Homo sapiens: one gene and its partners. The protein of the gene in region 1 purifies or fractionates together with the protein of each later gene. This does not show direct contact. Each region holds a gene or a part of one and is shown in the gene's direction. Other genes may lie near its edges.

Region 1 (4,740 bases):
CTCTGCCAGAGGGGGTTTCCCAGGGCAGCTGCCAGGCCAGCTGTCTCCCTCAACTCACCCTACTTATGTTCCCCTAGGCAGGGTGAGTGGCAGAGAGGCACCTGTGCTGTGCCAAGAGGCTTCCTGAGGCCGAAGCAGAGGGGCTGAGCCCCAGCAGGTGCTGTCCCCCGCTGCAAGCACTCTGTGAATTGCCCCCATTTAATCGTCACAGCATCACTATAATCGTGGCTGAGGCACACAGGAACTCACCCCAGGACACAGCTGGTTAGCAAGGAAGCCAGGATTTCAGCCCAAGTAGCCTGGCTCTGGTCCCCTTGCTTCATCAGCACACTCCAGGAGCCCCCAGTCCTTCCTTGAGCCTCCATTTCCTCATCTGTAAAATGAGACCAATGGGACTTCCCTAGCTGGGTGCTCTGAGGACCACCAGAGAGAGTGCAGGTGAAGCACTCAGCACCTGTTATTCCCCACTCAAGTCCAATTTAGTTCTCTCTGGGGATGCCTAGACAGCAGAACGTTCTCCCCGGCCTGCTCCTCTGCCCCACCCCCAGGACCTGTACCATCAAAGCCCCTAACAGACTCTTGGCAGCCAAGGCAGTGGCCAGGGAGGGTGTGGGCCCCTGGTACACTGAGACCAGAAACCCACGTGCCCTGCCATTGGGTCCACGCCCCTCAGCTCCTCAGGTGGGCTGGTGGGAAAGAAGAAGGCATGAGGGGCGCCAGATATAGCCAGCTCAATGGGTGATGAGTGACGCAGCCCTGCTGGGAGGCTAGGGCCTGAGGTAGGCAGGCGGCTGTAATTAGAGCCGCCAGTGATTCAGGCATTCCCCGAATAGGAGGGAAAAAAACAGAAGCTGCTGAATCCCCACAGCAGCTGGGGCCAGCGAGAAGTCTGGAGCCAGCAGACACCCACCCTGGGGCTAAGACAAACAAATGTCTTGACTTGAGGAAGAGGGTCGGGCCAGGGATCTGGGGGTCCTGTCCTCCCCACCCAACGGTGTCCTTGTTCCAAACCCAAGGTGGGAGCGAGTAAGAAGTCCAAACTGAGAAGAGCGTTATTGAGCTTTGTTGAGTATGGCCTATGCGGCCTGTAGCTGGCTGTCAACTGCGTCAGGGGTGGGTTTGTCAGCCCCCTGTACACGTGGGCACATGCCTACCCCTTAGAGGCAGGAAGCCAAGAGAGGAGGGGTGATGCAACTTGCCCAAAAACACACTGGGGGTCCCTCTGACAGCAAAGTTCACACTCTTTCCAGCCTCCCTTTGGAGGGAATACAATGGGATGGTGTCCTACTGGCTCGCAAAGCAGAGGGGTGGTGGCTGGGGCTGCAGGGAAGGCATGGAGGTGGGAGAGGTGAGGTGTGAGCAAGATGCTCCCAGCGGACTTGAGTGAACCTGAGATTGCCAGGGAAGGAGGTCAGGTAAAGATGAGGGGATAAAGTGCCAGGGTGAGGGGCTGCACAATCAGGGAGGCCTCCTGGAGGGGAGTGGGTGTGGAGCAGAGCCAGGAAAGGGCAGAAGCCACTGGGAGAGGACTGTGTCATCAGGAGGGAGTGAGGAACGGGGAGCCAATGCCAGGAGGTCGGGGGGAGAGAGAGAGGATGTGTCATAGAAGATGCAAGAGGGAGAAGGATGGGCTGCTTTTCTTTAATTGGCAAAGAGACCCCAAGTGGGATAGCACAGGCCCTGAGCCCCAACCAAGGGGAGTTCACCAGGCCCAAGCCCCCACCATATCCAGCTGAGCAACCCCTCTCTCCCTCCCAGGTATGAGGATGAGATCTCCAAGCGCACAGACATGGAGTTCACCTTTGTTCAGCTGAAGAAGGTAGCCTGCCCAGCCTGCCCCAGGGGCTCCTTCCTCATGGGCCCTGGGCCCTCTTTCCCTCCAGATATCCTACTCTCCTTTATGCCCAATCAAAGCCCTCAGAGGCTTAAGTCCCAGGACCAACAGACAGACAGGGAGATACCCCCATCCCCATCCAGCTCCTTTTTCGAGGCTCTGAGCCAGATCTCCTCTGGAATCACCCCCACTCTCACCCAGGAGGCAGCCCCCCAGCCCACTCCTGCCCTGGGACCCTCCATTCCCTCTCCCACCACTCACCACTGCTGCCAACCCCAGGACCTGGATGCAGAGTGTCTTCATCGGACTGAACTGGAAACCAAGTTAAAAAGCCTGGAGAGCTTCGTGGAGTTGATGAAAACCATCTATGAGCAGGTGAGTGAGATGGGGCCAGTGTCTTGCCAAGCCCAGAGCTGGCTGGTCCATGGGTAAAGGACACAGGGGAAGCACAGCCATCCAGTGGGGCATGGAACCTCCAACAGTCACTTACAATTTCCAGCCCCAGAATAATAATTTCCTAAACCCCTTCCTGTGATGGTGTCAATAACCCTGCATGACCCCTGGACATTCATCTCATGGAACATGGGCTGGTTCCCCAAAGGCCACTCTTTCTGGAAGAACTATACCTTTGTGTGCTAGAGTACTGAGGGCATGCTGGGGACCAGGTGCCTCGGACAAGGGTCAGGAGGCTGGCCTCAGTGGCATGGAACCCAGGGGTCTGGAACGAGCATGCTGATTGAACTGATCTCTCCCTAATTCCTGCAGCCTAAACCACAGCACCCACAGTGCTAGTTCTGATAGGCCTGCCTTTCCGTTTTCCCCATTTTTGGCGAAGACAGAGGAAACATTCGCATTTGTTTCCTAAGTCCTCAGTGGGGCCCAGTGTACAAGGGCCCATAACAGCATGGCATGCATCAACACAGCCATTAGATGGGCACTGCCGCTGGCTTCTGGACACCACTCCTCCATGCCAGCTGCTGACTCCTAGGCACCCTTCAGGATATGTGTCCTCCTCTCCACACCACTTGTTTCAAGGGTGAGGAGGTTCAGGGGTGACACTCCTGAGCTAAAGTCCCTTCCACAGAGGTCTGCAGTTCAGCTAGGAGCAGGCAGCACCACTGTTGGAGATAACAGGGCTTGCCCGCCTAAGTGCTGCACACTGCTGGTGCCAAGCTATGGCAGTGCAGCCAAGGTCAAGGCTGAGATCAAAGTCACCACCACAACTTACAGATTCTGCTAAAATGGCCCTATGATCTGCTGACCACAGCTTCATGGCTGCATCCTGTGGAAAGGAAGACCGGGCCTCATGGCCCTGTCATGGGTCACAGTCCTTTCCAGCAGTCCCAGCTGCCAGCTGGGGCCTCCGTGGAACTGAGTCTTGTTTGTGGCCACGAGAGGTAGCATAGCAGAGAGAACAGCAAACCCTTGGGAGCAGCAGGAAGGCAGCCCTCCTAGGCAGTCCGCTCTCCCCACAGCCCTGAAAAGCTTCCTGGCCCTAACAAATCCCCCCACAGCCAGGCCAAGTGCTATGGGGCTGACCAGGGCACCATGCCCACTGGCTGGGTGGGAACTGGGCTAGGGGCTTCTCTGCCCAAACTCACTGTGGGCTGGTGCAGCCCAGGCTGGCATCAGCAGGGCCATCTCCTGTCTCCACTGGGCTGGATCTCTGCCACCCTTAGGCCTCCACCCACTCATACTGCCTCTGAGAGGCTGAGTCCATGGGTGAGTGCAGATTCTGCCGAGCCTAGATGGAGTGCAGATTCTGAAAACCGAGCCCAGTGTTTCTCTACCTGCTCACTGATGTCTCAGCAAGCTCAGAGCTCAAGCTCTAAGCCATGATGCAGGCCCTGCAGCTGTAGAGACATAACTGGAAGAAGGCTGGGCATAACCAGTGATATTCCTGAGCACCCCACAAGACTTCTTGGCCCCTGCCCCAGTAGCCAGGCCTGTGGGTTCCCTTTGGATTTTGCAGTCCTTGGGCCCCAATCCCAACTTGGCCTTGTTTTTTTTTTTTACTATTTCTGTAACTTTAGGCAAGTTTTTTCTCCTCTCTGTGCCTTAGTGTCCTTATCTGTAGCATGGAGAGAGTAACAGGACCAGCCTCATAGGGCTGTGAGGAGGACTCAGCCCACTCATTCATTTAACAAATGTTTATTGCATGCCTACTAAGTGCCAGGCACTGATACCACAGCCTGGGCAAGGTCCCTTCTCTCAAGGAGGGCATGACTTAGCTGAGACAAGTCATAAGCAAGTCAGCAAATATCTGGACAAGATCGCTTCGCAGGGTGACAGATTCTGGGATGCAAAGAAACCGGGTGCTGCGCTGGAGCCGGAAGGAGGGAAGAGCCTCAGAGCCCATGAGCGGGGCCTCTCACAGGCGGTACCCTCCCTAAGAGTGGCAGAGATCCAGCCCAGTGGAGACTGGAGATGGCACAGAATTGCTATGCAAAGCCCCTAAGGCAGGAGGGGAGCCTGGCGATTAAAGAAAAAGAAAGAAGTCTCTGGTCAGAGCACACGGGGCAGGGTGGGAGCTTTGGGTCAGAGAGTGCCTCACAGGGTTGTCTCACGACTTGGACCTCATTCTGAGTGTGACAGGCAGCCTTCGGTGGGCACTGGGGCGGGGTGGCAAACAGCGGGTTTCAGGTGTGGTTGTGCTATCCTGAGCCTGCTGTGGAGAAGGGCTTGCGATGGAGGCAGTAGGGGCCAGGGAACCACAGCAGTTATTATTACTTTTGAAAGCAGCAAGATGGGGTTGAAATTGGAGGTTTGCCTTTCTCTCCATACACTGCTGCAGGCTAAGAGGGCAATGCTGACTCTTTGCCAAAACTATTCCCCACACCAGAGGGTGTCTTAAGTCAGTGCCGTCTGATAGAAATACAATGTGAACTGCATATGTAATTTTAAGT
Region 2 (4,528 bases), on another chromosome or scaffold:
CCCTTCCCTGGGAAGTCCACGGTAGCCCTCGAAGAGGCCTTACTTCCCAATCAACACTGAGCGGGCCTCCGACGCCCCCTTGTGGCTAAATGGGGTTACCGCAACTCCACCAAGCAGGGCAGGACACAGGAAGGAGGGGAAAGGGGTGTCAACAGGAGTCCCAGTAGCTGCCTGGTTCTGTCCCCAGCTTGTGCCCCCTTGGGAGTTAAAGTAGAATGACAAGACCCAGGTTCTGGTCCCGGCTCTGCCTTGGAGCAGCACTGGGACTTGGGACCCTGAATTGCTATGCCCATGGCTCTCTGTTGGAGAAGCCTCAGCGAAGCCCTTAGGTGGACAGGAAGAGCAGAGACATGGGGTCACTGATCCCTCAGAGGCCCAAGGTGTGTGTGGCCCTCTGCGCCCATAGGAAGGGCCTGCAAGAGAAGGACAAGGTGTGGCTGTTGCGGGAGCAGAAGCGCAAGAAGAAACTCCGCAAGCTGCTCAAGCGCCTGCAGAACAACGACACGTGCAGCATGCCAGGCCTCACGTGCTTCACCCACGACAACCAGCACTGGCAGACGGCGCCTTTCTGGACACGTGAGCAAGCCCAGGGCAGGGGTGGACAGGCTGAGGCCCAGGGGTTCAAGAAACTTCTCCACTTAGTGACCCAGACCTCTCTCAGAAAGGGGGTCCCCAACACCAGGGGTCCACGGTGCTCGGGACAGCCTCTTGGCATTTGACGAACTGGTTTTAGGGGCTGTCCCTGACAGGAATCACTGTTGGCAGATGGGGCCTCCTCCCGCAGGCACTCAGGACATGCTCTCTCTTCCTTGGCAGTGGGGCCTTTCTGTGCCTGCACCAGCGCCAACAATAACACGTACTGGTGCATGAGGACCATCAATGAGACTCACAATTTCCTCTTCTGTGAATTTGCAACTGGCTTCCTAGAGTACTTTGATCTCAACACAGACCCCTACCAGGTACAGGCAACCCGAGCTAGAGGGATGGGGGTGTGGGGTACACCAGTGCTGCCAGGTAGGCCCCCCCCAACCTCAGGGAAGTGATGACAAATTGTCCAAGTCCCACTGAGTCCCTGAGCCGGTGGGAGTAAGTTGTGAAGCTGCTGAGATTGGGGGTTCTGTGTTCAATCAGCCTTTTTTGCCTCCATCACCCTGCTTTTTGCCTCCATCACCCTGCGTGTGTAATATATATGGCTTCTTCCCTCTAACTTAACATGCAGCATGCAACCAGGTTTTGCCGGAACTTGTGAAGACTCCTAACACTGTCAGGCTGTAGGATCAAGCCAAATATCACCCACTGCAGGGCCTACACGGACCGCGCAGCTAATATAACAGTAACACACTGCACCAAGCACTCTGCTAAGTGCTTCCGTACAGTAAGCCATCTAAACACACATGCGACTGAAGTGGCCCAGGACCACACAAGACCAAAAGGAGCAGTGGCATGTCTGGTCATCGGAACATGTGGGCCCTTGTACAGGGACAGTCACTACTGAGCTCCAGCACTAGAGCTTTCCTGTACTGTGGCCTTGGTATTGCCCAGGCTTTGACCTTTCAAGAAAAGCCTGAAATAATTTAAATGAAATCTGATGTTTAAATGTCAGCAGCACAAATGCTTTAATTACTATATAGGTGTGCAGTCTTTCTCCTTAGATAGGTTCACCCTCATACTTTACCAAAGGGGTAGGTTAAGTCCCTCACCGGTAGCTCCCAGACTACACAAGAACCCAGGCCACTTACCCGTCCTTTCATCAAATGGCTGCTTTGCAATCAGGAGGAGCTGAGGGCCCCTGAATGAAGGCTGCTGATAAAACCAAGACTTGGAAGGCTTTCTTTCCAAGCTTGGGAAGTTTCCTGACCAGTGGCTGCAGAACTCCAACGTTAAATACACAGACGTGGTTTTTATTCTCCTGAGTTTTCACTCTCATGAAGAGTGAACCTGGTGGGACTTGAAGCCAAAAAGTCACCTAACTCTTCCAAACGCTGGCTCTTGCAGAAGTTGGAGTAAACAGGTCACCAGCCCCTAGCACCTTCCACCCGCCACCTGCCTGAAATATGTCCCCTGGTTGGTAGAAGGGCAGGGCGAGAGTCCCTGTACTTACCTTGTTGACAGACTACCTTTTTTGCAACCAGCTGATGAATGCAGTGAACACACTGGACAGGGATGTCCTCAACCAGCTACACGTACAGCTCATGGAGCTGAGGAGCTGCAAGGGTTACAAGCAGTGTAACCCCCGGACTCGAAACATGGACCTGGGTGAGTAGGCACCCCAACGTGGGGCCCTTGGACAGCAGGGTAACCAAAGGAAGGGACTCAGGAGGTGGTGTCTACCCCAAGAATGAGCCTGAAATCACCAGGCTTTGGGAGGTGATACAGTTCCAGACGAGTCATGGGAGCCCCTGTCCATAGCAGGCAGATGACCTTTAACAAGCTGTGATTCCTGAGAGAGGAACACCTGCACCAACTGCCCAGGAAACACACGGAATTCCGTCTCATTTCATTGTCCTCCCTTTTGTCCACTCATGCATTCAACAAACACTTCCTGAGAACTTACACCTGAAACCATGTTGACTAAAGATGACCCCATCCTCGCTGACTTGTGTGGAGCCAGTGTTGTCCTAAGAAGAGCAGTCCACAGCAGGAGGCCTCTTGCTTGTATGGAAAGGGTAAAACTGGATGGTAGAATCCAGTGTGACTGGGGAAGGGCACTGCTAAATAAAACCAGGGTCAGACCTCTGAACTGAGTCCTGAAAAGTAGGATGCAATCGACCACTGAGAAAACGTGGAGGGCTGGCGCTCCAGGAAGCTTAAAGTGTGAGGAGCAGAAAGCAGCTCAGGGGGTGCAGCCAACACAACTGAGGCCAGTGGAGAGTGGCGGGAGGGCATCGGGCCACCCTGTGTGGGGCTTCCTAGGCCACGGTAGAGTTTAGATTTCATTTGTGGTGTATCAGGAAGCCAATGGAGGGTTTTAACCTGGGCACCGACATTTGCTAGGTGGAGAATGGGACTTTATGGGAGAAAACAGCGAAGATGGCCCAGTTATCCAGGGAGAAATGGTGGTGGCTTGGACTAGAGGTGGGAGCAGTAAAGATGATGGATTTCAGATTCAGGTGGTGAAGCCCCCAGACAACATGGTGATGGGAGGTGCGGGATTAGGAGTCCCAGGTAAATCCTGAGTTTTGTTTGGGACAGGACAAAATCTGCAGTTTTAAGTTTAGAATGCCAACCAGATAGATATTTTAAGATGAAAAAAGCTAAACAGGCATGGTTGCTCATGCCTATGATTCCAGGGCTTTGGAAGGCTGAGGTGGGAGGAGACTTGAGCCCAGGAGTTCAAGGTTACAGTGAGCTATGATAGCACCACTGCACTCCAGCCTGGGAGACAGAGCTGTCGCCCCATCTCTAAAAATAAAAAAAATATATTAAAAAAAGAAAACAAAGCTAAAAGAAAAATGAAGTTCACTTACTAGTGAGAGAGAGTGGCCTAAAAAAAACCTTTGGTATTTAAGGTCCCTTGGGGAAGGGACTGTGTCTAGGAGGATGCCTAGAGTTCATGTCAGGAAAATGGCTACACAGCTTAGGAGGAATTCAGACGCTACCGTCGGCTCTAGTTATGAAGAGGGAAGAGCTAATGTGTTTACACAAGATGTTGCACTAATACTTCTGGTCAGGAGCCTGATATGATCAGAATTTTCACTAGTAGCTTCCTAATCTCTGCCACTCAAGTGCTGCTACTCTTGTGATCAAAGTGCAATGACATATTAGTCACTGTGTGCCAGGCTCTGTGCTGAGCATTTTACATGTGTTAGCTGATAAGCTTTGAGGTGAATCTTATCCTCATTTTATGGAGGAGTAAGGTGAACAAGGTGGGCTGACCCCGGAGCCCACGCACTTGATCCTGCCACATCCTCGGGAAAACTTCCCCAGAGCCCAAAGGGGAACTCCCTCCTGCACTTGGTCAGGGCTCTTGGCTTTCTGTCCTCTGGAGCACAGATGTTCATGCCTGCATCTACCTCCCTCACCATAACTAAGGTCAGCGCTGAATGAAGCCATCAGGGTCCTGAAACTGATCATGGTGACACTGGATTTTAGGCAATCTACAAGGCTATCTAGGAGACTTAGGGCAGGTTCCCCTCATAATTCAGTCTACCCCTCATAATTCAGTCTACTCTGAGTAGGGAACACTATCAGCATCATGGGATTGTGACAAAAAAGCATAAGATGGTTTTCTGGTGTGTTGGGGTTGTTTTGCCTAAACTATCTGCTCCTGTTTTGTTTTTCATTTCTCCTTCATTTAGGACTTAAAGATGGAGGAAGCTATGAGCAATACAGGTATTTCGTTTTATTATTAAAGCCTAAACAAAGTTCTCCTATCTTGGCCCATCCTTCAGTCTCATCTCTGTGAGTCTGCACCTGTTATCTTGAGAAACTGCCCTTCCCTCTGGTCTGCCCGAGACCAGGATCACCCACCAAAGATAGGTGTCACCTAGGAGACCTTCTTTGTATAGTTCTTTGGGGACTTTTTCTT
Region 3 (4,740 bases), on another chromosome or scaffold:
CTTTGAGAAATCTCTCTTACAATTACATTTTGGTATTGTAATATTTAGATCTCTGCCTTTCTATTTCTTGCTAAAGTGGTCCTATTTTGAATCCAATTGATTTGGAATTTGTGATTTAGTCATTACTGTTTTCAAATTAGTGTCCATGTAAAAGGCATTATTGAAATGCCAGGGATTTGGTCTATGTCCTATTGCTCACCGCACAGAGAGGCAATCACTGAGACAAGTGTTGCCAGGGAAGAAGGCTTTAATCAGATGACGTCAGCCAAAGGGATGGGGATAAATCTCAAATCATTCTCCCTCAACTTACTAAAATGGGAGGTTTATATAGTGGGGAAGAAATGTAGCTACATATGGGAAAATAAGGATTAGGGAGGGGAAAGAAAATAATCAAGACGAGTGTGGGTTCTGCTATCTCTTTGTGTGCATGCCATGATGTGAATTTCAGTTGCTTGATACTCTCTGGGAGGCCTGCGAATGGGTTTCCTGAAGAAGTAATTCAGATACGACAAATGTAAGTTTCAAGCTTTAAGACCAGGAGGGTCAATTTCTATGTTTATTCAAAAAGACCATAAACTCATTTCTATGGAAAATTAGGCTGGTTTCAAAGGGATTTTTGATGAGAACAAGACAATTAATCTTAAATTTCTTTCTCTTTTCTTTTTAATTGCAACAACATAACATAACATGATTTTTACTAACAGTCTAAGCTTATTTTTAATAAATAAAAGCAATGTTAAAAAGCTTTAAAGTATTTTTAAAGTGTTATATTTTAAAATTGCCTATTTGAATCTGTGTTATTAGCATAATCAAATCTTAATGAGTGCTTCCTACAAAATACTCTTTTCCCTTTTCTATTTCATTTTGTAAATTAATATCTTACTCTTCTATGCGTCTTAAACTCTACTCCTGAATCTGCGAATGCATTATCTGCTCTGTTAGGTCATAGATTTCTCAAAGGCAGAGATTGTGTCTTGTTCAGTTCATCTTTTATATATAGTGACTAACCCAGTGGGAGAACTTCATAATTAGGTTGGTGTCAGATTTAGGCAGTTTCTAATTTAAAAAAACTGACTCACCCCCACCCCCCAAAATAACCAAGCAACCCTTCAGAAGGTGGTTAGCAGATGACATTTTAATCTAGTCATTAAATGTTCATTATTTGCTATGTTTTAGACTTGTATGTAAAGCCAGGAAAGATCTTCCTATTGTAAGGGCTTACATATAGTCATAAAACTTTAACAGCAACTGTCCAGCTGTTTTTTTTTCGTTGTTTTCTGTTACTATTGTTCTCTCAACTCCCTTGGGAGGTGAGGCAGCATTAAAGCTGCACACAACTGTAATGAAAGCTTAGAACCAGGTAACACTCAGAAAAGGGAATTGTTACTGGGGTGAGAGCATCACAGTACTCCTGGAAAGTAGTTCACAAAGTTTATAGAAGCTTGATGCAGAAACAGGCAGAGAGAGTTTTGGAGTGTTCTGTAGCCCACAGAGTGAGTAAGTGTAGTGCCAGAATTAGAATGGAATGGAATGTGAAAAACTGTGTGATCTAGGAGGAAGCAGCCCTAGGCATGAGGAAGTCTTAGCCTTGCTTTGCTTCTGGACAGCTGCATGATTGTTGCAAGTCACTTCGCCTCATTTGGCCTCAGTTTTTTTTATCTTGAGAAGTAGGGAGTTGGCCTGCATGAGTAGTCATGTCCTTTCTAAAGCAGGCAAGACTCTGATCATTCAGTTCTGGGAGTGCTCATGCTAGAAGGCAGAAGGGGTGAAGCCAAGTGATTAACTGGAACATTTGAAGAGCCAGGTTGGGATCATTCAGTCTTTCTAACCAACCCCTTCTTTTCCTTCAATATAGTCAGGCTCTTGTCTTCTTTTAATAGTGATGGCCAAATTGCCAGGATTCCCTTTACCTTCTCCTCCTTCGAGCTGAAGATTTTGATCAAACATTAACCTAAGTTATACAACAAAGGTTTTAAAAAATATTAGACTACATTTCACACAAAATTTTATCATTAATCGAAAGCCTGTGAAATCCCCCCAACTCAGACCATCTTTAATTTGTTGGTTTTCTTTTCTTTGTTAGTAGACTTGTTACTAGATGGGTAATGTGAGCTATGTGTAGAGAAAATCTGTTGGACATCAAGATGTTTACCAACATATGCAAAGGTAGCTTTCTGAGTTGTGAGGCATTATTGAATTTCCAGATACATCCAGGACATCCATTACTCAAAAAACACCCACCAATTAAGGCATAATGCTCCTGAAAACACTCTGGTGATCTATGATTACCCTGAAATTAGTTTGAAAATACAAAGTACGTCTCAAACCCAGTTCCCAGATGCAAGATAAGAACTGTGAGTTAGGTACAAACTTGGCAGAAAGAAAATGTAGCAATAAAATGGACTATAAGCTGAATAAGGGGGGAGAGTACCCACATACAGCAGGCATGTGTTTGATCACCTATCATCAGTTGAGGGGCAACTTAGAAACGATAGATACAGTAGAAAGATTACTTAGTTTGGGGCCAAATATATGTGCTATTTGATTATGCAGTTTTCTTTTCTGAAAAAGAAGGAATGATCATATCTACCTTGCAGAGTTGTAGGATTAAAGCTAACACATGTAAGATATTTGGCACATGTTAGACACATTTTTTAAAAAGTTACATAATGTTATCTTTTTGAATTAGGTTTTATAGGCTAAGAAAATCTATATTAACTGGGAAAGTGTTAAAACAAATTACACCATTCCATTCAATGCAGCAATATTTCTTCATGCTTATGGTGTGCTGTATCTGATGATAAAAGCACAAATAAGAGGATTTACATTTCTATCTTGGAAATACACAATATCTATAGGCAAAGAGACAAAAGAAAAGGCATTTCATTTGAAAGGCATAGGTCAGTGGTGAGATCTACATATTCTCTTGATACTCTGGAATAGATTGGGTGGGGAAGGCAAGATACCTGTTCTTAGGAAGTCACTATCTCACTCTGGTTCTATATTATCTGTAGTTCTACACTGTCAAAGAGGACATTGAACCTGGTGATATGGTTTGGCTCTGTGTCCCTACTCAAATCTCATCACACATTGTGATCCCCATAATCTCCACGTGTTGAGGGAGAGACCTGGTGGGAGGTGATTGGATCATGGAGGAAGTTTCCCCCATGCTGTTCTTGTGATAGTGAGTGAATTCTCATGAGATCTGATGGTTTTATAAGTGTTTGGCAGTTCCTCCTTTTCTCTCTCTCTCTCCTGCCGCCTAATGAAGAAGGTACTTGTTTCTCCTTCTCCTTCCGCCATGATTGTAAGTTTCCTGAGGCTTCCCCAGCCATGCGGAACTGTGAGTCAATTAAAACTCTTTCCTTTATAAATGACACAGTCTCTGGTATTCTTTGTAGCAGTGTGAAAATGGACTAGTACACCTGGTGACATCAAGACCCCCAGCATCATTCAAGATTTATTGTCTCTTGAACAATATGAATGACTGACTAAAGTGCCTCAAATTCTGTAGTTTGCATGTGGGATGAGTCAAAAGGGGGTGAGAATGTTAACAAGGCACATGACCCATGGGAATTTGCTGGGCATATCCTCAGTCACAGAGCAATGAGGGGAGAGTACAGGCAAAAGGTGTAAGCAGAACCAGCCACAATCTGTGGAGAAGAATGAGATGGGATGATGTTTGCTTGGCTGCTAACTTGATAATAAGAATGTTAGCCTTTGGCTTCATTTTACGTGAATACAGGGAGTTCCACCACAAAGTGGGTAGGATTATGTCCCCTAAAAATATAGTTTAAGTCCTAATCCTTCTACCTGTGAATATGACCTTGTTTGGAAATAGGGTCTTTGCAGATGTGGTCAAATTAAGATGAGGTTGTACTGGCTTAGGATGGGCTCTAATTCAGTGACTGCTGTCTTTAAAAGAAGAGGGAAATTTGGATACATACATGGACAATAAAGAGAAGGATGTGAAGATGGAGGCAGAGACTTGAGTGATTTGTCTACAAGTCAAGGAATGTCAAAGTTTGCTGGCAACCACCACAAGCTGAGAGAGAGGCATGAAACAGATTTTCCTTGAGAGTCTTGAAATGAACCAAATCTGCTGATATCTTGATTTTGGACGTTTGTCCCCCAGAACCATGGGAGAATAAACTCCTGCTATTTAAACCACTCAGTCTGTGGTAATTTCTTATGGCAGCCCCAGGAAACGAATTCACACTACTAAATGAAAATAGATCTCTGTCTATCAATATCAACACCAATATTTATATACAGGGATGATAATGACCTTAGTTTTCCAGTTCTTAATAGCATACTGAATAATTGTGCATGATTGTATTTCAGGTATGTAAAATAAAATTGTTTGTTCACTTATTTTCTTCCAATCACCATTTTCTCTTTCTCCTTTTTTTTTGGTTTTAGATCGTTATAAGTTTTACAATGGACTCTCTTGTTACAGCAAACACCAAATTTTGCTTTGATCTTTTTCAAGAGATAGGCAAAGATGATCGTCATAAAAACATATTTTTCTCTCCCCTGAGCCTCTCAGCTGCCCTTGGTATGGTACGCTTGGGTGCTAGAAGTGACAGTGCACATCAGATTGATGAGGTACGTGTCCACTAGGGTGCTACACAGGGTCCTAAACTCTGGGTCCACACTCAAAGTCAGACCCTAATCCCACTTAGGCAAGCCAAGGGGCTTATTGCACCCTGGGCTTGGTCAGAACCCATCCCTGTCTCT
Region 4 (4,740 bases), on another chromosome or scaffold:
AGCCTATACAAGTCCAGTTCTACTCCTGGAACTGGTACTAGGGTCATCTTTCCTTTAGTTATGAGGAGTGCTACCTGAATAAAATAGAGTTTTGTTAGGAAGAAGGAAGGAAGTACTAAATGCTGGATTAGCAATCAATAATGTCCATTATCTTCAAGTAGAGTCACATCTTATATGGGAGGTAAAGTTCTAAAGTTGTCACATAAAAAGAGTCATGTACATTCAAAATTACCTTCAAAGTTTCTTAAAACCACATGACATTTTAGAGAATGATGTAACATCTTTCAGTAAATTCAGTACAACTATTTTCCCAACATTCAATAGATTTCTGTTTCTTTGGTGAAGCCAGATTAAAAGTTGATTTGGATTTATAGGACCCAGTGATATTTTCTACTATGAAAGGCACACAGGAAGGAAAGAAATAGCAGAGTCATATCTCCTAACGGACTATACATCTGCTATAAAAATGGAGTGGGATGGTGGGTAAAAGCACCCACAGTACAGTGCAGTAATAATTTATAAAATTATGCAAATTTGAAAGAGTACAACATAAAATATTAATAAATTATCTCATGATTGGAAGCATTTGAAATAATAGAATTTTAAAAATTTTTTATATCAGCAATCATACAATATTGAAAGGAGTGGCTACATGAATTGGAAACCATGTTTTTGCTAAAGCCCATGGTGGTGCCACTTCAGCAAGCAAAGAAATACCTGCTTTTCTTTGACAACTGTATGGGAAATTAATCTTCAATTATGCGAGTTTTAAATTAAGTGAGACAGAATGCCAGTAATGGCATTTCATAACGTAAAATCTAACTGCTTTGCATTTAAACTATTTTTTTCTCACTATCTGGGGGCCAGGGTACTAAATGGGTCTAGTTGAATTCGCATACTACAAATGCCCATGTAATGTAACTTCACTCTATTTTATTGATATTGATATTTAACTAGGACAGTAAGAGTTTTTTTGTTTTTTTTTTTTAATGTAGTTTCGCTCTGTGGCCCAGGCTGTAGTGTAGTGGCAAGATCTCTGCTCACTGCAACCTCTGCCTCCTGAGCTTAAGCGATTCTCCTGCCTCAGGCTCCCAAGTAGCTGGGAGTACAGGTGCCCGCCTCCATGCCCAGCTAATTATTTTTGTACTTGTAGTAGAGACGGGGCTTCACCAAGTTGGCCAGTCTGGTCTTGAACCCCTGACCTCAAATGATCCAACTGCCTTGGCCTCCCAAAGTGCTGGGATTACAGGCATGAGCCACTGTACCCGGCCAGGAGATGTTTCTTTATGCCAGTAACACTACCCCACACCCTTGCTTTATGTGGGGTGTTTGATTGAATCAATAATTAATACTACAATGTACATACACAACCAATGAAACATTTGTGTTCTGTCAAGGTAGAGAAGCAACAAGATAAACAAAGTCTGGCATGGTTGAGACCACAAAATACAGTCAGTTGTTAAGTCTTGAAGAGAGCTAGAGGATATAGAAGTAGCCCAAAGATCAAGGCATAATAATTTGTTAGAAGTCAGGAATAGGTAGTACAGTAGATGTAGAAAGCCACAGCCAGAACCAAAATTTCCTTAGGCAGAGGGAGTAGATTCCAAGATGTACTAGACCGACTTCAAGTAACAATAGTTATGAATATGCCCCAATATCCTTGTTTGTGTTTCCCAAAATGTGTTCAGTGGAACACTATTTCCTTGAGTTGCTCTTTGAAAAAGGGCTCTGTCATCAAATAAATTTGCAAAATACTACAGACATTTATTTTGGAGAATATCAGGACATATTATCTTTTTAAAGGATATTCCTACAGAAAAGACACCTTTTTACTTCTTTTAATCTAGAATTTCCTAAATGTACTTTATCATGGGATATTGTATTTCAGCACCAAACCTACTAACATCCCACAGAAATGGTTCCCAAGTATATATTTGAGAAACCCTGACTTGATGTCACCTTTCATGCTTCACACCTGGGCAGGAATTGTAGGCCAGATAATTGGAGTGGGAGGTTCGTTCCTGAAGGCATCAATTGGGAAATACTTGAGATTTTTTTTAGAAATGAAAGAACCCTTGTTGCCAATAAACTCAAATCTTCATGGAGTTAAAATTTGAGAAAATTTATGTTAAAATAAGGTGTTTATCATATTAACTTGGGTAGTTTTTAAAATTAGTAAGATTGGCGTAGTGGGAAGTATTTGGACTCACAAGACCTACATTCAGATTCTGGTTCTGAAAAATGCTACTGTTGTACTTTTGTATAGGTCTTGTATTTGTAACGCTAGTGTTTTTAGTAAACATACCCAAAAACTTTAATGGCCTGAACATGACTGAGGTTTATTTCTTGCTCACCTAAAGCCCAAACAGGTGTTTGTGATTGATAGGTAGCTTTCTTCAAAGCTTTATTTAGGAACCCAGGCTCCATCCATTTTTTGACTCTGCCAACTTCATCAGGTAACTACCAGAGTCAGTGTGCTCATAGGCATCAATCTGTGGATGGAAAGAGGATGGAGGAGAGCCAGAGGAGTTTTTAGGGGTAGGCCTAGAAATGGTGCACCTCAAGTGTGCTCACATTCTGTTGGTTAGGACACAGTTATGTGACCACACTTATTTGGAAGGAAAGCTGGAAATGTAGTCTACCTATATATGTAGGAAGAAGAAAAAGTGGATTTGGTGAACATCTAGCCAGTTTCTACTAAAACATTTAGTATAAATTGTTCTGTAAAAGGAACAGATTATACCTGTGTGAATGATAAATAGGTTTCAACACAAGTGAGAATCATTCAATAAGTAGTTGCCACCTAGAACAACAACTAAGAATGATTCCCAGGCTGGGTATAGACTCAGTAGAAAAAGATCTTCCAACAATCAGCAATATCTGTCATGTAGAGAACATAAGGAATAGTGCCACAAGTGAGATACATTTACCTCTCAAGAAGATCTCTGAGGTCCATCCCAGGATCTTAAATTTGAAGTTAGACTGTCCAGGAGTCCAGACTCAACTCAGTTCCACCATTTACTAGCTGTGTAACTTTGGGTAAATTAAACTATCTGTTGCCTCCTCAATAAGATAAGTAAAATAATACCATACCAATACCAAAGGGTTACTGAGAATTAAATGATTCGAACATATGAAGACTTTGTGTGGCATTTAGAAAGTAAGTATTTATGGTACGTATTATTATAATTAACAGTTCCAGTCTTCAATTTGGATATTATAGTCTCTGAAGCAAAGGGCATAAATATAAAAGTCTAACTTAGGTGAATGCAGCCTCTGTTACCAATACAGATAGGAGTTAGGGCAACTTAAATAAATAAAATGAGTAAGCAACCCTGAAAATGATCAGAAATTTAGCATTCTTTCCTTGTCACCATCTGAGGAGTGTTAATGATCAATAAAATAGCCAATAGGCAGCAATCTGAGGAGATTAAGACAATCTATCTGAATTCTAGAGATGTGATGGCCAATAGCCAATAGTCAGCAATCTGAGGAGATTAAGACAATCTATCTGAATTCTAGAGATGTGATGGCCAATAGCCATAATGACATAGTTTTCAATATCTTATCAAAGAAAATAATCCAACTCATCTTAAAAGAAGAAAAGCAAATGAACAAACTTAGAATGTATTCATAGAATTTATCCTCACAAGAATTTTATTGTTAGAATCTTTGAGTAACAAACACTAATATAATATATAATACCTTCAATGGCTGTTTTGCAAAATATGCAGAAGTGTTATTCCATATGGCTATTTATTACGTCAACTCTTTATAAAAAGAAGGACATAATATGAGATGTTATAAATAACTGGGATGGGCCTGAGGCTTTAAATCCTGTCACCTTGTGACACTTAAAAGAGTTCATGATTATTCCAATTAAACAAATAGCCGTGAACTTTATAACACAAAATTGTCCACTTAAGAATTGAATCGGGGGGCAGTTCCAAGACGGCTGAATAGGAACAGCTCCAGTCTACAGCTCCCGGCATGAGTAACGCAGAAGACAGGTGATTTCTGCATTTCCAACTGAGGTACCGGGTTCATCTCACTGGGGCTTGTTGGACAGTGGGTGCAGAATGGTGGGTGCAGGACACCGAGCATGAGCCAAAGCAGGGAGAGGCATCGCCTCACGTGGGAAGCGCAAGGGGTAGGGAATTCCCTTTCATAGCCAAGCAAAGCTGCGACAGACAGCACTTGGAAAATCAGTCACTCCCACCCTAATACTGCTCTTTTCCAATGGTCTTAGCAAACGGCACACCAGGAGATTATATCCCGCGCAAGGATCAGAGGGTCCCATGCCCACGGAGCCTTGCTCATCTCTCGTTGCCAGCACAGCAGTCTGAGATCGAACTGCAAGGCAGCAGCGAGGCTGGGGGAGGGGTGCCCACCATTGCTGAAGTTCGAGTAGGTAAACAAAGCGATCTGGAAGCTCGAACTGGGTGGAGCCCACCGCAGCTCAAGGAGGCCTGCCTGCCTCTGTAGACCCCACCTCTGGGGGCAGGGCATAGCCAAACAAAAGGCAGCAGAAACCTCTGCAGACTTAAATGTCCCTGCCTGACAGCTTTGAAGAGAGTAGTGGTTCTCCCAGAATGGAGTTTGAGATCTGAGAACGGACAGACTGCCTCCTCAAGTGGGCCCCTGACCCCCGAGTAGCCTATCTCGGAGGCACCCCTCAGTAGGGGCAGACTGACACGTCACACGGCCAGGTATCCTGCTGAGACGAAACCTCCACAGGAA

Evidence for each region.
Region 2: the proteins of KRT80 (region 1) and SULF2 purify together in Homo sapiens (co-immunoprecipitation; one large-scale study listed by IntAct). This does not show direct contact.
Region 3: the proteins of KRT80 (region 1) and SERPINB12 fractionate together in Homo sapiens (co-fractionation; one large-scale study listed by BioGRID). This does not show direct contact.
Region 4: the proteins of KRT80 (region 1) and RNLS purify together in Homo sapiens (pull-down; one study listed by IntAct). This does not show direct contact.

Annotation. Positions count from the first base shown.
Region 1 is NC_000012.12:52,177,982-52,182,721, reverse strand, and holds part of KRT80 (keratin, type II cytoskeletal 80), read left to right. Parts: intron 1-1,758; coding exon 1,759-1,819; coding exon of another isoform or gene 1,820-2,113; coding exon 2,114-2,209; intron 2,210-4,740.
Region 2 is NC_000020.11:47,659,501-47,664,028, reverse strand, and holds part of SULF2 (extracellular sulfatase Sulf-2 isoform a precursor), read left to right. Parts: intron 1-406; coding exon 407-576; intron 577-816; coding exon 817-959; intron 960-2,132; coding exon 2,133-2,256; intron 2,257-4,298; coding exon 4,299-4,332; intron 4,333-4,528. UniProt on the Homo sapiens protein: Exhibits arylsulfatase activity and highly specific endoglucosamine-6-sulfatase activity. It can remove sulfate from the C-6 position of glucosamine within specific subregions of intact heparin.
Region 3 is NC_000018.10:63,551,720-63,556,459, forward strand, and holds part of SERPINB12 (serpin B12), read left to right. Parts: intron 1-4,422; coding exon of another isoform or gene 4,423-4,440; coding exon 4,441-4,608; intron 4,609-4,740. UniProt on the Homo sapiens protein: Inhibits trypsin and plasmin, but not thrombin, coagulation factor Xa, or urokinase-type plasminogen activator. May play a role in cell differentiation.
Region 4 is NC_000010.11:88,355,562-88,360,301, reverse strand, and holds part of RNLS (renalase isoform 1 precursor), read left to right. Parts: intron 1-4,740. UniProt on the Homo sapiens protein: Catalyzes the oxidation of the less abundant 1,2-dihydro-beta-NAD(P) and 1,6-dihydro-beta-NAD(P) to form beta-NAD(P)(+). The enzyme hormone is secreted by the kidney, and circulates in blood and modulates cardiac function and systemic blood pressure.